4 linked regions of the Homo sapiens genome follow. The protein of the gene in region 1 purifies or fractionates together with the protein of each later gene. This does not show direct contact. Each region holds a gene or a part of one and is shown on either strand. Other genes may lie near its edges.

Region 1 (5,183 bases):
TTATTATTTGAGTATATCTTTCTAACACTCTATTTTCAACAATTTAAATTACCACATTCTAAATAATCTGAAGAGGTGAAGTGAGGGGAGAGGAGTAGGTAGGGAGAATATAGAAAATGTCTAGGAGGTACTTTGCTATACTCCTCTAGGAAAACCATTGCCCTCTATGGTGACAGTATTGAGAAAAGATTACTACAACTCAGGAACAGCTTCCTAGGCAGACAGTGCCTGAGCTACAGAGACAAAGCATAAGCCCAATACATGTTCTCCTCCACGGTGTTCAAGACTTAAGTGCCATCAGAAAACAAAACAAACACTGACAGTGATGATGTCATGCTAGTGATGATTAGAAGGAAAAGACACTGTAGTACCAAAGCTACTTGAAAATCCATGTCCACATTAAACTTGCAAACAGGTACAATAAAATTAAATATACTTTCTATGAATGGCACAGAAAACACTGATGCTTATCATAACACTTTCTTTTACCACTTTTGCATCACTGTTGCTGACTGATTATTGTCTACTATCCTTTCTGCAAGGAACAGGAGTATAGAAGAAAAAAAATCAACACTATTGTCTCCACATTTCTTACTAGAGTCCAAAAGACTGAACAATAAACAAAGGGATCTAAAGAAACACCTAAAGCCAACATACTGACAATCAGAGTATCGCCTGCTTGACATCAGTAGCAGTTGCGCAAAAGAATAGTGCAAAACCTTAGGCTTAATGGAGCTTACAGACTAGGGGGACTGGCAGTGTCCAAACAATATTCCCAGCTTTAAGTGGCAATTGTTAAACTTACACTTGATAAGTGTACTGTATTCTGGAAGCCTCTGTCACAGTATTAGCCATTGTTCGCTAATCTCACTGTGTGTTTACTCTGCTGTCCCATCCTTCAAGGCATTAGAGACTCTACCTCAGTTGGGTTTAGAGTAGTGGTTCTCAATTGAGGGAAATTTTGCACCCAGGTGACATTTGGTAATATCTGAAGACATTTTTGATAATCTCAACTGAGTGTATGAGTGTTACCGGCATCTAGTGGGTAGACACCAGGGATCCTGTTCACATCTTGAAAGCACAGAACAGTCCCTTCCACAACAAAGAATTATCTGGTCCAAACTGTCAACAGTGTCAAGACTGAGAAACCCTGATTTACAATTAAGTCTTCAGTAGGGAAGCTGCTCTTGACACTGGGATTAAAAATCCAAATGATAATTTTTTCTAATTCTTATGGCTCCCACCTGGATCACTGGAGGAGTTTTAAACTAGTAATTCTGAGCATAAAATTTATAACTCAATTTAGAATTAAAAGAATCAAAATGACTAGTAATTTTTTTTTCTAAATTTTAACACACCTGTGAGGCTGTCAACCTCCCAAAACTGTAAGCAAAATATGGGGTTTATGTGCAGTTTTCTGGTAGAGCCAGTTTATAGCTTTTGAAAGGTTTCGAGCTTCTGGAGATAAGTTATGATAGTTGCTTGATAAGAGAAAAGCATTTAGTAGCCAGGATTAGGGCTATTATCTGCCTCCAAAGTCTATTTAAAAGGCCCCTCTCTAAGCAAATGAGACAAAAATAAAGGGGAAGCTAAAGCAAACTTGGCCACTTGCAAGAGACGGATCCAGCAAAGGCATGATTGATTTGTCTTCCAAGACACATCCCAGGCCTCTGATGCTCTGTAGCTCTGAGTCCTCTCCCAACTCTTTCACAGGTATGTGCAAGTCTGTTTAAAGATAGATACTAAGTGGGGCCTTCAAACTTTAGGTAAAGTGCTACCTGTAATCTTTGCTAACACCAGTCACACTGGTGCTGCACATAAAGCAATCCTAAAAAGCTTATCCTTACTGAATTTTTTTTTTTTTTTGAGATGGAGTCTTGCTCTGTTGCCCAGGCTGGAGTGCAGTGGCGTGATCTCGGCTCACTACAACCACTGCCTCCTGGGTTCAAGCGATTCTCCTGCCTCAGCCTCCCAAGCAGCTGGGACTACAGGTGCCTGCCACCACGCCTGGCTAATTTTGGTATTTTTAGTAGAGATGGGGTTTCACCATGTTGGCCAGGCTGGTCTTGAATTCCTGACCTCAGGTGATCCACTTGCCTTGGTCTTCCAAAGTGCTAGGATTACAGGCGTGAGCTACTGCGCCTGGCCTTACTAAAGATTTTAATATTTATGCCCTATAACTCTCAATAGGAAAGATCCTGCTTTTGTATCATTTAGGAATATGAATACTCATAAACTTGAATTTAATTCTATTTAAATGCTTTGAAGCCCCCAGTAATAATTTGAGAGGCATGTTTTCCTCATATATATATATTTATACACACACACACACACACACACACACACGTAAAGGAGGATACCAGACAGCATAATCAAATCTCCTTTTGGCAAGCTATTTTTAATCAACCAGCACCTTACACTTCTTTTAAACCATTCCACATACTTGCTCTATTCTCCAAGTTCTTTACAAAATCATACTTCATAAACTCTTTTATTTGATATCTTAAGAAACATGCTAGCATTACCTAAGTTTTTTCCACCAAACAGATATGCTAAGAGAAAACAGTAATTCTTATCAATAATACAAGCGTCCTGCAATTAAAGCCCACACAGTGCTAGGGTAGATGCACAAGAGATCCTGTATCATTACCAGAAAAACTCCACTCCTAAGGTTGAGTTCAATCACAGTGACAGAACACACTAGCCTCATTTTGTTTGGAAAAATGTCACTTACCCCCTAGGAAAGCAATGAATGAAAAACCAATCAATGAAGGCTGATTACAGAAAGGGAAAATATTTCAGAAAATGGCCAAGAAAATCTACTTTGGAGAAAAGCTCTATGAAAACTGAATGGCAACAACTACAAACTAATGAAAAGCAGAGTCCAAGATTCCCAGACCATCAATGTCAGGAAAGAAGCTGACCAAAATGCAAGATCACAGTGAAGTAAAACACAGCATCAGCGAAGATTACCCCTTACCTTCATCCGCAAGGACTTCCGGGATCCCTCTCGAAATGCCTATCCCAAGGAGGAAAACAAGTAGAACAAACAAAACTTGGTACCAAGAATGACAGTTATACCTATCTGAGACTAAAACTAAGGCACAAACTAGTGTTCTATTCTGTCCCCCTTTCTCTAGGTAAAAAATACAATGGAATTCCCCAAACTATTACCAAGAATAGGGGTAGCTCAAGGCCAATGAACTCTGAGACTAATTTTAATACTTTCTACTGTGAAGCTAGGTAATTAACAGGGAAGAGCATGCATCTCTTAAATCCTATATGCACCTCTGATACTAAGAGAAAAAGTAAATAAAAAAAAACTTTAAAGTTGCAGATTTACCAGTTTTGAAACTAAGAAGGAAACAAAGACCAATCCCCTTAACAAGGGATGAACAAGTCACCTAGAAGCAACAAAGTTGCTGTGATGGGGAAGAAAGAACACAAACCAGAAGAAGTTTCTCCCGTAGACATTTTAGCTGAGAATACAGGAAAGTGACCATGACACTGAGGAAACCTAGACCATACAAGAGATGTTTCCTGATTTTTATTTTTTTTGAAACAAGGAAAAACAATCAACCCAAAGACATGAGGCATGTAACCAGGACAAGAATTTCAGACTGTACTTTGGGGTTGAGAGGTGGGGAGATACTGTAAGGATAGTGGAAGCCTAGACTTGAGGCTGCAACACATACGGGATTGTGCCAGGTAGGGCTGGAATTTCATACCTGGGATGGGGACTGGAGTAGAAGAAACTTTGAGCCAGTGGTGATGATATGGTGTGGCAGAAGAGAGGTTGGTCTACATGTACATAACACAGATTAGCTGATTTTTGCAAGTAGAACAAAAGTGGCCCTTCAAACACCTGGATCAAACTTCTTAAAAGAATTTTGGTGCATTCTTGCTCCAAAATTTAAGCTATTTCAGACAATTTCTATTTAAGATATTTTTACCCTGCATACCTTGATTTTCTTCGTCTTTGGTGCTGCACGACCCTTTTCTGGACTCTTTTTCCGCTTCTTGGGTTTGGTTCTTCTAACAGTTAAGGTGATGCTTGTAGGTGTGTGCTGTGTTGCTGTATACAACACAGTGGAAGGAGAAAGCTCCTCATCCCAGCTTTCTGTTGCACTGCTATCCCCACCTGAAAAATGATGATTTCATAGTTCAGGTACTAATAGCCTCAAAAGTACATTAAAAGTAGCTTATTCTTTTAGGTGTGCCCCACATGCAGTAAGCCATTACTTCCACTATTAACTCTTATCATCTGTAAAGCAACGTTAAATACTCATCTTCCTTAAGAAAACAAGATTCTATGTCATTGGCATTAAGCATATAAACCCTGTTCCTCATGGTATTTATTTCTCCCCTTGTATTCAGTCCCTAAGCTTCGCTGACTCAATCTATAACAATTTGAGACTGGCTAATTTTTAAAACAGGAATCCATATTTTTTGTGTTCACAAGGAATACTTTGCTACAGGACTAAACTGTTCTCAACACATTTCGTTTACAATGAGAGAACTATACAGTGGTCTTGAGAGGACTTCTATCTCTTTCTGTGAAAAGAGCTGGCTGGGGGACCATGGGAACTTGTAAGAGGGGTTCTTTTTTTTTTTTTTTTTTTTTTGAGAGGGAGTTTTGCTCTTGTTGCCCAGGCTGGAGTGCACTGGCGCAATCTCAGCTCATGGCAACTTCCGCCTCCCGGGTTCAAGCGATTCTCCTGCCTCAGCCTCCCAAGTAGCTGGGATTACAGGCATGCGCCACCACACCTGGCTATTTTGGATTTTCAGTAGAGATGGGGTTTCTCCATGTTGGTCAGGCTGGTCTCAAACTCCCGACCTCAGGTGATCCGCCCGCTTTGGCCTCCCTAAGTGGTGAGATTACAGGCGTAAGCCACTGCGCCTGGCCAAGAGGGGTTCTTAAAATGAACATTCAGATCACAGAATATTTTTATGTCAAATTGTGGACCTAACCCATCTTCCGCTCACCTGATATGTTGTCCTGCTTCCGCCGATGAAGTCTAATAACCTTCCCCCTGCTCATTCCCCTAAAGAGGGAAAATAAACTTAAAGTAGTCCTTCCAACAGCATGCATCACATCATAGCACACATGGGCGAAGTGTCTCTGCATATGCTACCCCCTCCCTCCCACCTACCAAATGTTTCCAGGACATTAAATTTCATAT
Region 2 (3,500 bases), on another chromosome or scaffold:
ACCTCCTGCGGACCACATACATGCGCCAGTACTTTTGAATGATGGTTGCTGCCTTGGTTCTGCGCAGAAACTTAGCATAGCTGGCCAAAGAAAATAACATTATGTTGTCAGTAATCAGAAAAAAATGCAGGAATACATATTAGAGAAACTTAAAGAGTGTCACTGTTTTAGGCATAAATAGTACCTCCATTGTATTATTCTAATAATGTGCATGCTAAGTCAACATTTATATTTACTTACATTTGTATAGCAATTTATAGTTTCCCAAAGTATTTTTGCATTTATTATCTCATTTGAGCCCTCCCTAACTCTGGAAAGTAGGATGGCCCACATTGCCAGATTTTACAAGAAAGCAAAATTCACAAAAATTCATTCTTTCTACAACAGGATCCATTTACCCCAGGCCATGCCTCTTTATAGAACAGACAGACATACACAGTAATCTCATACTTAGTTATCACCAGCTTTCTTGGATCTAGCCATTATTCATCTACCATATTTTTCCTGATTTTGTTAGGCTATAAGCTCATGATTAATTCAGTTCTACTTATACTTCTCAATTAAAATTAAACTAATAAGTAATCACACTAAAGTGTAATTCTCTTCCAGACCCTCTCAGTTAATTGCTCCCAAAAATTATACAATGAAGTCATTATTACCTAGCTCATATTCACGACTGTTTTAATTGATACATGATTTCCTCAAGCCCAATATAAAAGTATCAAAAATAAAAATTTTGAGGACATAAGTAAGCAGCAGTTTGTAAATGTTTTGAAGATAAATCTGAATCATTCATAAGGCTGAGTGAAATTTTATTCTATTTAGCTGTCCTATGAGTTAATTTGTTGTCCCTTGGAACTAAGAAAAGGTGAGGTGTTATCTTTTCAGCTATGGTGACCAGTCAAAACTGTCCTTGGTTGGACAGTGAATTAGATGGGCACTCTACTCTGTCCCCAGGAGACCTACCATCGGGCCTGGTAGCCCCGCACGTATCTCTGCATGGTGATGGCTGCCTTCCGCATGCGTAGGTACTTCTTTCTCAGCAGCCACCCTCGGATGGTCTTCTGGATCCGGATGCAGGCAGCTCTCAGTTTGTCAGCTCTCAATTTTTCTAGATAGGCCACTTGACCGGCACGGAAAAAGATCTTTGTCTTACCAAACTGGTATTTGTCCTTGTCCTATTTTTGGAAGAAATTGTATATTCAGAAATAATAATCATATAAGTGAAATTTAAAAGAAAAAATGTCTAAAAGCAGAATCAGTAAAGGAATGACTCTATTAGCTAAAACTTGGGCTACATCACAATTAACTAATGGAGCCAGATTTTTAATCCTATGCAAGTTGAGCAAATAGAAGGGATTTTAAGAAAAACTGCAGTTTAAGAGTTATTTTCCAGAATTATTCTACCTGGAATTATTATCTGAGGCCCAAAACTTGGTTGTGGGTTATAGGCAGTTATTATTTGCTTGTTTGTGTTTTAAACATCTCAAGGAAATGGAGATGCTGACTCTCTCTGACTGACCCAGGTTGTAAGGATTACAGCGGGCTGTATATTCCATGAGAAGCTGAAGGGACAAAAACACCAGTGTGAAGAATAAGGCAGGAAGAAACGTTTATGAAATAAAATTCAAAAACCAAAAACCAAAATCCTTGGGTATTCATATTGAGTTATGTTTCTAAACAGTTAGCTCTTGGCTTTATCAATAATATCTGAAAACAAACTAACAAAACCCCATAAATATGTTTAAAATCCTACAAATTGGCCGGGTGTAGTGGCTCACGTGTGTAATCCTAGCACTTCGGGAGGTCAAGGCTGGCGGATCATGAGGTCAGGAGATCGAGAACATCCTGGCCAACATGGTGAAACCCTGTCTCTATTAAAATACAAAAAATTAGCCGGGCATGGTGGCATGCACCTGTATTCCCAACTACTTGGGAGGCTGAGGCAGGGGAATTGCTTGAACCCAGGAGGTGGAGGTTGCAGTGAGCCAAGATCGCGCCACTGCACTCCAGCCTAGCAACAGAGCAAGAATCCGTCTCAAAAAAAAAAAATCCTTTCAAACTCCTTTTACAAAAACATAATAATTTATATTACATTGTGATTCACCTTATCTAGAAGTATGCAAATCATTAATCATTCTTGCATCAAAGAATGGAATTTATATGTAAGAATCATTACTGTGACCTGGAATTCTTTTTTTTTTTTTTTGAGATGAGTCTCGCTCTGTCTCCCAAGCTGGAGTACAGTGCTGTAATCTCGGCTCACTGCAGCCTCCGCCTTCTGGGTTCAAGCGACACTCCTGCCTCAGCCCCCTGAGTAGCTGGGATTACAGGTAAACACCACTACGTCCAGCTAATTTTTGTATTTTTAGTGGAGACAGGGTTTCACCATATTGGCCAGGGTGGCCTCAAACGCTGGGCCTCAAGCAGTCCGCCCGCCACGGCCTCCAAAAGTGCTGGGATTAAGGGCGTGAGCCACCATGCTTGGCCATGTGATCTGAAAGTCTAAGGGAAAACAGAGAAAATCATTTTTCCCTATGAGTAGATATCTCATATTATCTCATATATGAAACCAAAAAATCTGACACATCCACATATATCTAAAAAATCTACAATTATTTCAATTTAAATCAATAAAGTTTACATTGGAAACCTAGCTAGAAAAGTGGTCCTTACCCGCATCCCGCTTCACACCTCACACCAACCCTGCCTCCATCTTTCAGCCTCCTCTGCCTAACTAAATTCCCACAAAGCCCTGATCCAGGCCTGAAATGGCCTGGGTGAGAGGACCAGGAATAGGCCTGTTCCTACTTTCTGCTCTACATTCCCACCTGAACACAGGTTAGAAGGGGATTGGGCAGGCTGGGCGCAGTGGCTCACACCTGTAATCCCAGCACTTTGGGAGGCCGAGGCGGGCAGATCACGAGGTCAGGAGTTCAAGACCAGCCTGGCCAACATGGTAAAACCCTGTTTCTACTAAAAATACAAAAATTAGCTGGGTGTGGTGGTGTGCACCTATAATCCCAGCTACTGGGGGGGCTGAGGTAGGAGAATGGCTTGAACCCACGAGGCGGAGGTTGCAGTGAGCCGAGATGCCACTGTACTCCAGCCTGGGTGAAAGAGCAAGACTGTCTCAAAAAAAAAAAAAAAAGAAGGGAATTGGGGCAAACTCAAAAAGCCCCAGTTAAAAAAAAAAAAAAAGCATTGCTGAGGAAGTGGCCTTAGCTCTTTCAAGGAAAAAATATTATTAACAAAAAAAAGGCATCACATTTAGTTCACAGCTAGTAATTATGATCAATTAGCTCAAAGTGAGGTACTCCATCTAGGATAGTGTTAACCAAGTGAAAATATTATTTTAAAAACTTTTCATGAATCTTTAATTCTCTAAGACCAAGATCAGTAGTTCTCAAAATATAGTCCTCAGACAGCATCGGCATCACCCGGGAAATACAAATTCTTGGGCCCAACCTCAGACCTACTGAATCAGAAATTCTGATGGC
Region 3 (3,500 bases), on another chromosome or scaffold:
GTTGGTTAAAAGAGTCAATCACTGGCTCACATGCAGTCGCTGGAAGAAAGTTCAGTGGTGCTCACTCTCAGTCATCAAATGTAGGTGTTTTCCTTTACACCTATAGGATCTTTCATTGTTTCAAGATGGTTTGTGGAGTGTTGTAAAGCTGTCTCAGAGGTGATGCTGAGCAACAGAGACTGAGACTTGTTCACACTGGGTCCCAGGTTCCTATTTGTAGATGTTCTTTCTTTTTTTATTTTTTGAGTGTATGATATTTATTTTCTTTATTCAAATGTGTTATAAGAGTGTCAGTTTCATAGTGTCCTAACAAAACAGAATTCACTATCTTGATCTCTCGTCCCCGCACCCCTCACCATCCCCTAATCTCTCAGACTTAAACCAGAACTTTTCTTTCTGCCTGCATGGCATCTACAATACACATACCCCGAAAATTCTAATTGTAATTGATTTTCCTTTCTTATCCCTGAAATATTGTCAGTCACCAGATCCTGTTGATTCCTTCTCCAAATACTGTACATTCCTTTCTTTTTCTTGCCAGTGCCTTAGTGAAGTCCTTTTCCACCTTTTGCATAATAATTCCATTAGCTCCCAGACTGGTTTTCCTGGTTTCTTAGAGATATCTCTCTAAACTAGAAGCCTTTTATAACTTTCCTTTCATAAAAGGTGAAGTCTAAATTATTTGATGTCTTTCAAGATCATGTAAAATGGTGTGTCAGTTTTTTGTTTCAGTCTCTTCCCCCACCATCCCCTCTTAAATCCTGTTTTTTGAACGGAAGTCTGTCATAATCCTGAAAGACACTGTCTTGAACACCATAATCCCAAATGTTGAAATCTTAAAAGATGAAAGTCCCAAAACTAGGATTCTGTAAAAATAATAAAAAAAGATATTTATTTACATTTTAAAAAGGGGATTTGAGAAACGTATAAAAACATGACAGAACTCTTCATAGGCCACTTTTCACAATAAAATAGGCAATAACATATATATAGGCAATAAACATATATGTTTATTGAAACTATAAACACATATACTAACAATAGTTGCATGGGTATAACAGGAGCAGACAAACCGTATTCATAAAGAATAGGGCGAAAGGTGAAATGCATAAACACATATTATTGTGGTTGGTAATTGTGCACCCAGCTTTGTTACTGCAGTCATCTGAAATACTGTGATGATGAACAAGCTGTCTTTTGATGAGATCAGTCAAAAACCATAGTGAGTCACCACTGCATTTGTAGTTGCCCAGAGAACTGAAATCTTGAGAAATTTTATCTTTTACAAGTGCAGATGTATGATAAAGGACATCTGTTCATTGATTAAGTTTCAGTGTTTTTATATACATACACAATGTTTACCCAGAAAGTAAATGTTGTGGTAATGCATTTTCATGGAGTTAAATTTGCAAAAAATGAATACAGTAAATTAGAACTCTCCAAAAATTTCTACATAATTAAAAAATGCTAACAATTTAAGATAGTGAAAATAAAAACAAAGAAAAAAAAAACACCCAAAACTAAAAAGGAAGTTTGACATAAAAAAAAGTGTATCACAGGGACAGATTATAGGCAGTTGCATGGAGATAGTCCATAGAGCTGGCTGTCTTTCTCAGTCATTAACTATATTTTGAAGTCTTGTACCACGAATAATAGGTGCTTTTTTTCTTTTAGGACATGGTTCTTGGAGAATATGTTCATATTCATTTTCTTCATGAGATTGCTCTTTTTGGAATTCTTCTGTGATTCCTCTGATTGGGATTTTTAGGATTTTTGATGTTAGGGATTTTAATCTAGGAATTTTGATCTTTTGGGATTTCAACATTTGGGATTATGGCTTTTGGGATTAGGAATTCAAACCCCTTTGACATACTGGGCTAAGCTGCTTTTATGTGTGGTTTGGCCAGGTCATAGCAGCTACATAGCTGGCCCAAGACAAAAGTGAGGGACAGAACATTTTGGGGTTACCTAAGGATCTGTGGCAAACCTTTAATTGTTGGGAGCTGTGTAGGAATCAGTAACTTGATTACATTTACAGTTGCCCCTTATACTCATCAGAGTACCTGAAATAGTGCTAGGTACATGAAAAGGATCCAGCGAATTTTTCCTTATCAGTAGAAAAGGAAAATTCTTTTGGCCTAATGAAAAAGAATCATGCTAACAAAGATTATTTTTGAGGTATTTTGTTAGACAATTGTGAATATAGATAAAAAGAGAACTATTAATATAAAAAGAAAAAAGATAGCAGAATCTTTTCCCCATCATTTTCCAAATAAAATACAGAAACATCTTTATTACTGTAGTTTAATACGTTCAGCTTTACACATTGCATTATGATAGGAAACACATTATAGTAAACTCATCTGTTACACCATTCATTTGTGGACTGTGTTCTACAGTGGTACCGAAGTCAGTAACCGGGCAGGGATCTTTGCAGAATGTTAATAGGAAACTCTGAAAAAAAAGTTCAAGGTCAGATCATCCTAGGAAATTGTGAGTAACTGAAGTTAAGTAGATTTCTTTGCTGTAGGATTCTCAGAGGCTTCACTCAGTATGTTCATTGTGAACCTCCATACAGAAGTATAGTGTACAGCTTTTCATAAACTCATTTGACAGGTAAATCCTTTTTTCAGGACATACCTATTCACATTTCATAGAACAAATGTTGCCTAAGACAGTTTGGGAGGTAGCAGTGTAGCATACTAAGGAAATAATGCATTTAAAATGTAAGCCTAACCAGATACATGATATTGTAACTGCCCAGTGGGTTCTCCTTGCCCACTACCCAGACAGAGCTGATTTATCAAGATAGGAATTGCAGTAGAGAGACAGTAATTAATGTAGAGTCGGCTGTACGGGACACTGGAGTTTTATGATTACTCAAATCAGTCTCTCTGAAAACTCGGAGATCTGAATTTTTAAGGATAATTTGGTAGGTAGGGGCTTGGGTTGGAGATGAAATCATAGGGGGTCAAAATTGAGTTTTTCTTGCTTGCTTCTGTTCCTGTGTGGGAGCACAGAACTGGCTGGGCCGGATTACCTATCTAGGTGGCATCAGCTGGTGCATTGGAAGGTCTGCAAAATATCTGGAGCACTGATTTTAGGTGTTACAACTGTGATGTTATACCTGGGAGCAATTTGAGGAGGTTCAGATTCATGCAGCTGGAGGCTGTGTGGCTCCTAAACCGTAATTTCTAATCTTGGAGCTAATTTGTTAGTCCTACAAAGGCTGACTGGTTCCCCAGGCAAGAAGGGGGTTTATTTTGGGAAAGGGTTATTATCATGTTTGTTTCAAAGTTAAACTTTAATAAACTAAGTTCTTTCCCAAGATTAGTTCGGCCTACACCCAGGAATGAACAAGGACAGCTTAGAGGTTAGAAGCAAGATGGAGTTGGTTAGGTCAGATCTCTTTTACATAATTTCCTTGGTTGTAATTTTTGCAAAGGCAAAATTACATCTTTCAACATCTTTTTATTTTTAAGAAGAATAAGAAATTATAG
Region 4 (3,500 bases), on another chromosome or scaffold:
GCAATTACACTGTTCTAAGAATGGTGTCTGAAGAATATTTTTAATCCACCTAAAGTGCACTTTTGTTACCAACAAAAGCAATGTTATGCTTCCGAAGTCTATCACCTTACTAGCCATTTTTTTCATTTAATCCTAAGTACGTCAAGACACTTTTAAACTATACATGACAGTTCCTTGGGAATCTTTCTCCAACTCCCTAACCTTAATTATGTCACTCCCAGATATGCTCTCAAAGTATCCTGTACTTACGCTTTTAACACTGCACATTTGCAATGATTTGTTTCATATCTTAGCTTTTTTCTCTTCTTTTTAAATGATCCTCCCACTTCAGCCTCCCAAGTAGCTGGGATTACAGGCGTGCATCACCACACCAATCATAGCTGTGACTTCTGTCTCCCTCCCCAAAACCCACTCAGCACTAAGGTCCATGGGAAGACAGATATTTTTATCTCATACACCACTGAATCCCAGTGTATAGTGCCTGGGCACTAGCATGTGTTAGATTATGTGATAAAAAATAACATTATAAAAGAGAAATACACCTTATCACACAATGACTCACATTGGTTTCAGGATAGGCTGTATCCCTGACATCTAACTTGTTAAGAGGCAGAAAAGTAACCTCTCCAGGAAGATTCATTTTATTAAACTCCATTAAAATCTTCGTGCTGACTTCATCTGAATCAACAATGTGATAAAATAACCTAAATATAAACAGAGTAAGACAAATCTTTATTGGTACTCAGGGTCTCCCTATGTTGCCCAAACTTATCAATCCTCCCACCTCAGCCTCCTGCATAGCTGGGACTAAAGGTGTGCACTTTTAAAATGTTATAAACACTTAAGCATCAAACAGTTTTTTCCTATATAATCCAAATAATTTTGGAAAATAAGACTACTTTAAAAATTCCAATGGCGGGGAGGGAGAAACTCCCAAAAGAGGAAAGTTCTAGCTTCTATAATTAGGAACAAATACTTAGCATCTACTTCTTTAATTAGAAAGTTAAGGAACCGAGATATAAAAAGATAATGGAAGATATGTTGTACAAAAACTACAAAAGTTGTTTAAGCTATTCTTATTCCCTCTTCTAAAAATGCTAAATATCAAGCAAAAGCTTTAACCTGTTTCCAGCAGTGACTTCCACGCATGTGTAGAAAGCTGGTTCACATTCAAAGTTATTCATTACAATACCATGATAGCCATTTTGAACATGCTGGTTTATTCCTTTTCGACGGAAGTGGTCTAGCACTTTGTTTATGCTGTCTATTCCATTTAAAATGGCCTGTAAGTTGTCAGAAATGAAAAATATTAAAATAATATCATCAATGGCACTCCTGGTAAGGAATGAGCCCACAACACCATACATTTTAAAAATATACCAGTGATTAAACTAAACATCCTCTCCAACAAACACATCACCTCCTCACAATATGCCAACTACATGTAACACCTTATATGATAGGCTCTGTTCCATAACAGTAGTGTTAAAAATGGGCTCTTTATCTGAACATCAAAAGTGCTATTAATAGTATGTGTAGTAATAAAACTATTTAATCTCTATCATTTCATATTTAGAAGATAATTTGGACTCCTATTTATCACTTGGAACCCATGACCTACACCTTGAAAGGTAAAAAATTATTACATAACGATTAACTCAATGACTCAGTGTAAACAGAGGTGATGAAAAGAACCTGCCCACCTTTCCTGTTGCTGCTCTAAGAAGTTGTTGCTTCTTTTCAAGATCTTCTCTTTTAGCAGCAAGTGCTTGCTGTTCTGCATTCTCTTCTCTCCACAAGTAGCTAATAAATAAAAAGTAGACTGTCTTTAATTTTAAACACATATGAGGATGCATTAACAGTATACAGTTTAGAATCAAAATACAGAAAACAAGCCTGACCGGTTAACTTGTAACTTAAAGACCACATAACAGCTAGTAACGAACATTACTGAAAACATTAATGCACATTTTAGTCTATACTAACTTTCTTTCACTTTGTAGTTCATCTTTCTTATTTTTTACTTCGTAATATTTTCTGTCCAGTTCTTCTACTCGAGCTTTGACTTCATTAAGATCCTGGTCCAGTTTCTATGGAAATAAAAATAAATTTAAAATTCAATTTCATGAAACTAATCTACACTGATAGAAAGCAGATCAGTGGTTGCAGATGGATGGGGGAGGCGGACAAAAGGTGAGGGAGGAATTACAAAGGGGTATGGAAAACGCTTTTGGGTAATAAACGTGTTTATTGTCTTAACTGTGGTGTGTGGTGTCTTAACTGTGTGGTGTTTTACAGATGTATACGTATGTCAAAACTCATCAAATTATATACTTTATTTTTGCCACTTTCCTGACTAGGAAAAATGATGTACACTAAATATGTACAATTTACTGTATGTGAATTATACCTCAATGATGCTGTTGAAAAATCCAATTTCAGTTTGTTTTTTTTGTTTTTTGTATTTTTAGTAGAGACGGAGTTTCACCGTGTTAGCCAGGATGGTCTCGATCTCCTGACCTCATGATCCGCCCGTCTCGGCCTCCCAAAGTGCTGAGATTACAGGCGTGAGACACTGCGCCCGGCCCCATTTCAGTTTTTAAAAGTTGTCTTTAGGCAAAAGAGCATACCACACCAGAAAACACAAACCATTAAATACTATAAAACATGTTGCTAAAAGTTAATTTGTTCATTAGTGATCTAAATCTTCCTATTTCTATAATATACACTCCAGAATTTTAGAAAAAAAATTCTAAGTTCTCATAATAGTCCATTATATACTTTCATACTGCCCCCTCTACACACACACACAACAGAACACAAAAACTATTTTCAACTATTTTACATTCAAGAAAAATGAGTTAAAAATCTTGGCAGAACCTATAACAAATCTCTAAGAACCTAACGTAAGATGCTGTTTCCTTAAGGAGAATTAATGAACTGTATTCATTAATTTAGTAGACTATACTGAGCTGAAAAAATCCAATAGCCTCACTGGCTAGAGTTTAAGGAAGCTGACACTTCATCCACTTAGTGAAGTTACCAAAACCCCAGTATGTACCAGGCATTCTTAGAAGAGCTGGGGAATCATAAAAGACCAAAGCAAACAAAAATCCTTGCCTTACTGGGAAGCAATAAGACAAGCAAAATAAAGCTGAAGATCATCCTTCAGGGGAAGGGCTTCAAACTGCTTCATAAAGTAATTACATTCATCTGTTTGTATTATAACTAATTATTGTCAGATATCAAAGTAATTGTAAATATTCCCACAGAGTACTGACAATTATTCATCCTCAGTAGTAACACTGACTTTTTGTCCAAAATTTTAATGGACAAAAGTCAATGTTACTACTAATTCCACTGACAAAAAGTCAATGTTACTACTGAGTCACAAAATCTTAGATTGGCCGGGCGCGGTGGCTCACACCTGTAATCCCAGCACTTTGGGAGGCCGAGGTGGGCAGCTCATGAAGTCAAGAGATGGAGACCATCCTGGGCAA

The links.
Region 2: the proteins of SETD5 (region 1) and MYO5A purify together in Homo sapiens (affinity purification with mass spectrometry, with the first as the bait; one large-scale study listed by BioGRID). This does not show direct contact.
Region 3: the proteins of SETD5 (region 1) and MYO6 purify together in Homo sapiens (affinity purification with mass spectrometry, with the first as the bait; one large-scale study listed by BioGRID). This does not show direct contact.
Region 4: the proteins of SETD5 (region 1) and SMC3 purify together in Homo sapiens (affinity purification with mass spectrometry, with the first as the bait; one large-scale study listed by BioGRID). This does not show direct contact.

What each region holds. Positions count from the first base shown.
Region 1 is NC_000003.12:9,434,686-9,439,868, reverse strand, and holds part of SETD5 (histone-lysine N-methyltransferase SETD5), read right to left. Parts: intron 5,046-5,183; coding exon 4,987-5,045; intron 4,142-4,986; coding exon 3,963-4,141; intron 3,020-3,962; coding exon of another isoform or gene 2,981-3,019; intron 1-2,980.
Region 2 is NC_000015.10:52,375,381-52,378,880, forward strand, and holds part of MYO5A (unconventional myosin-Va), read right to left. Parts: intron 1,179-3,500; coding exon 967-1,178; intron 81-966; coding exon 1-80. UniProt on the Homo sapiens protein: Processive actin-based motor that can move in large steps approximating the 36-nm pseudo-repeat of the actin filament. Can hydrolyze ATP in the presence of actin, which is essential for its function as a motor protein. Involved in melanosome transport.
Region 3 is NC_000006.12:75,881,739-75,885,238, forward strand, and holds part of MYO6 (unconventional myosin-VI), read left to right. Parts: coding exon 1-80; intron 81-3,500. UniProt on the Homo sapiens protein: Myosins are actin-based motor molecules with ATPase activity. Unconventional myosins serve in intracellular movements. Myosin 6 is a reverse-direction motor protein that moves towards the minus-end of actin filaments.
Region 4 is NC_000010.11:110,588,195-110,591,694, reverse strand, and holds part of SMC3 (structural maintenance of chromosomes protein 3), read right to left. Parts: intron 2,091-3,500; coding exon 1,987-2,090; intron 1,804-1,986; coding exon 1,704-1,803; intron 1,284-1,703; coding exon 1,123-1,283; intron 705-1,122; coding exon 563-704; intron 1-562. UniProt on the Homo sapiens protein: Central component of cohesin, a complex required for chromosome cohesion during the cell cycle. The cohesin complex may form a large proteinaceous ring within which sister chromatids can be trapped.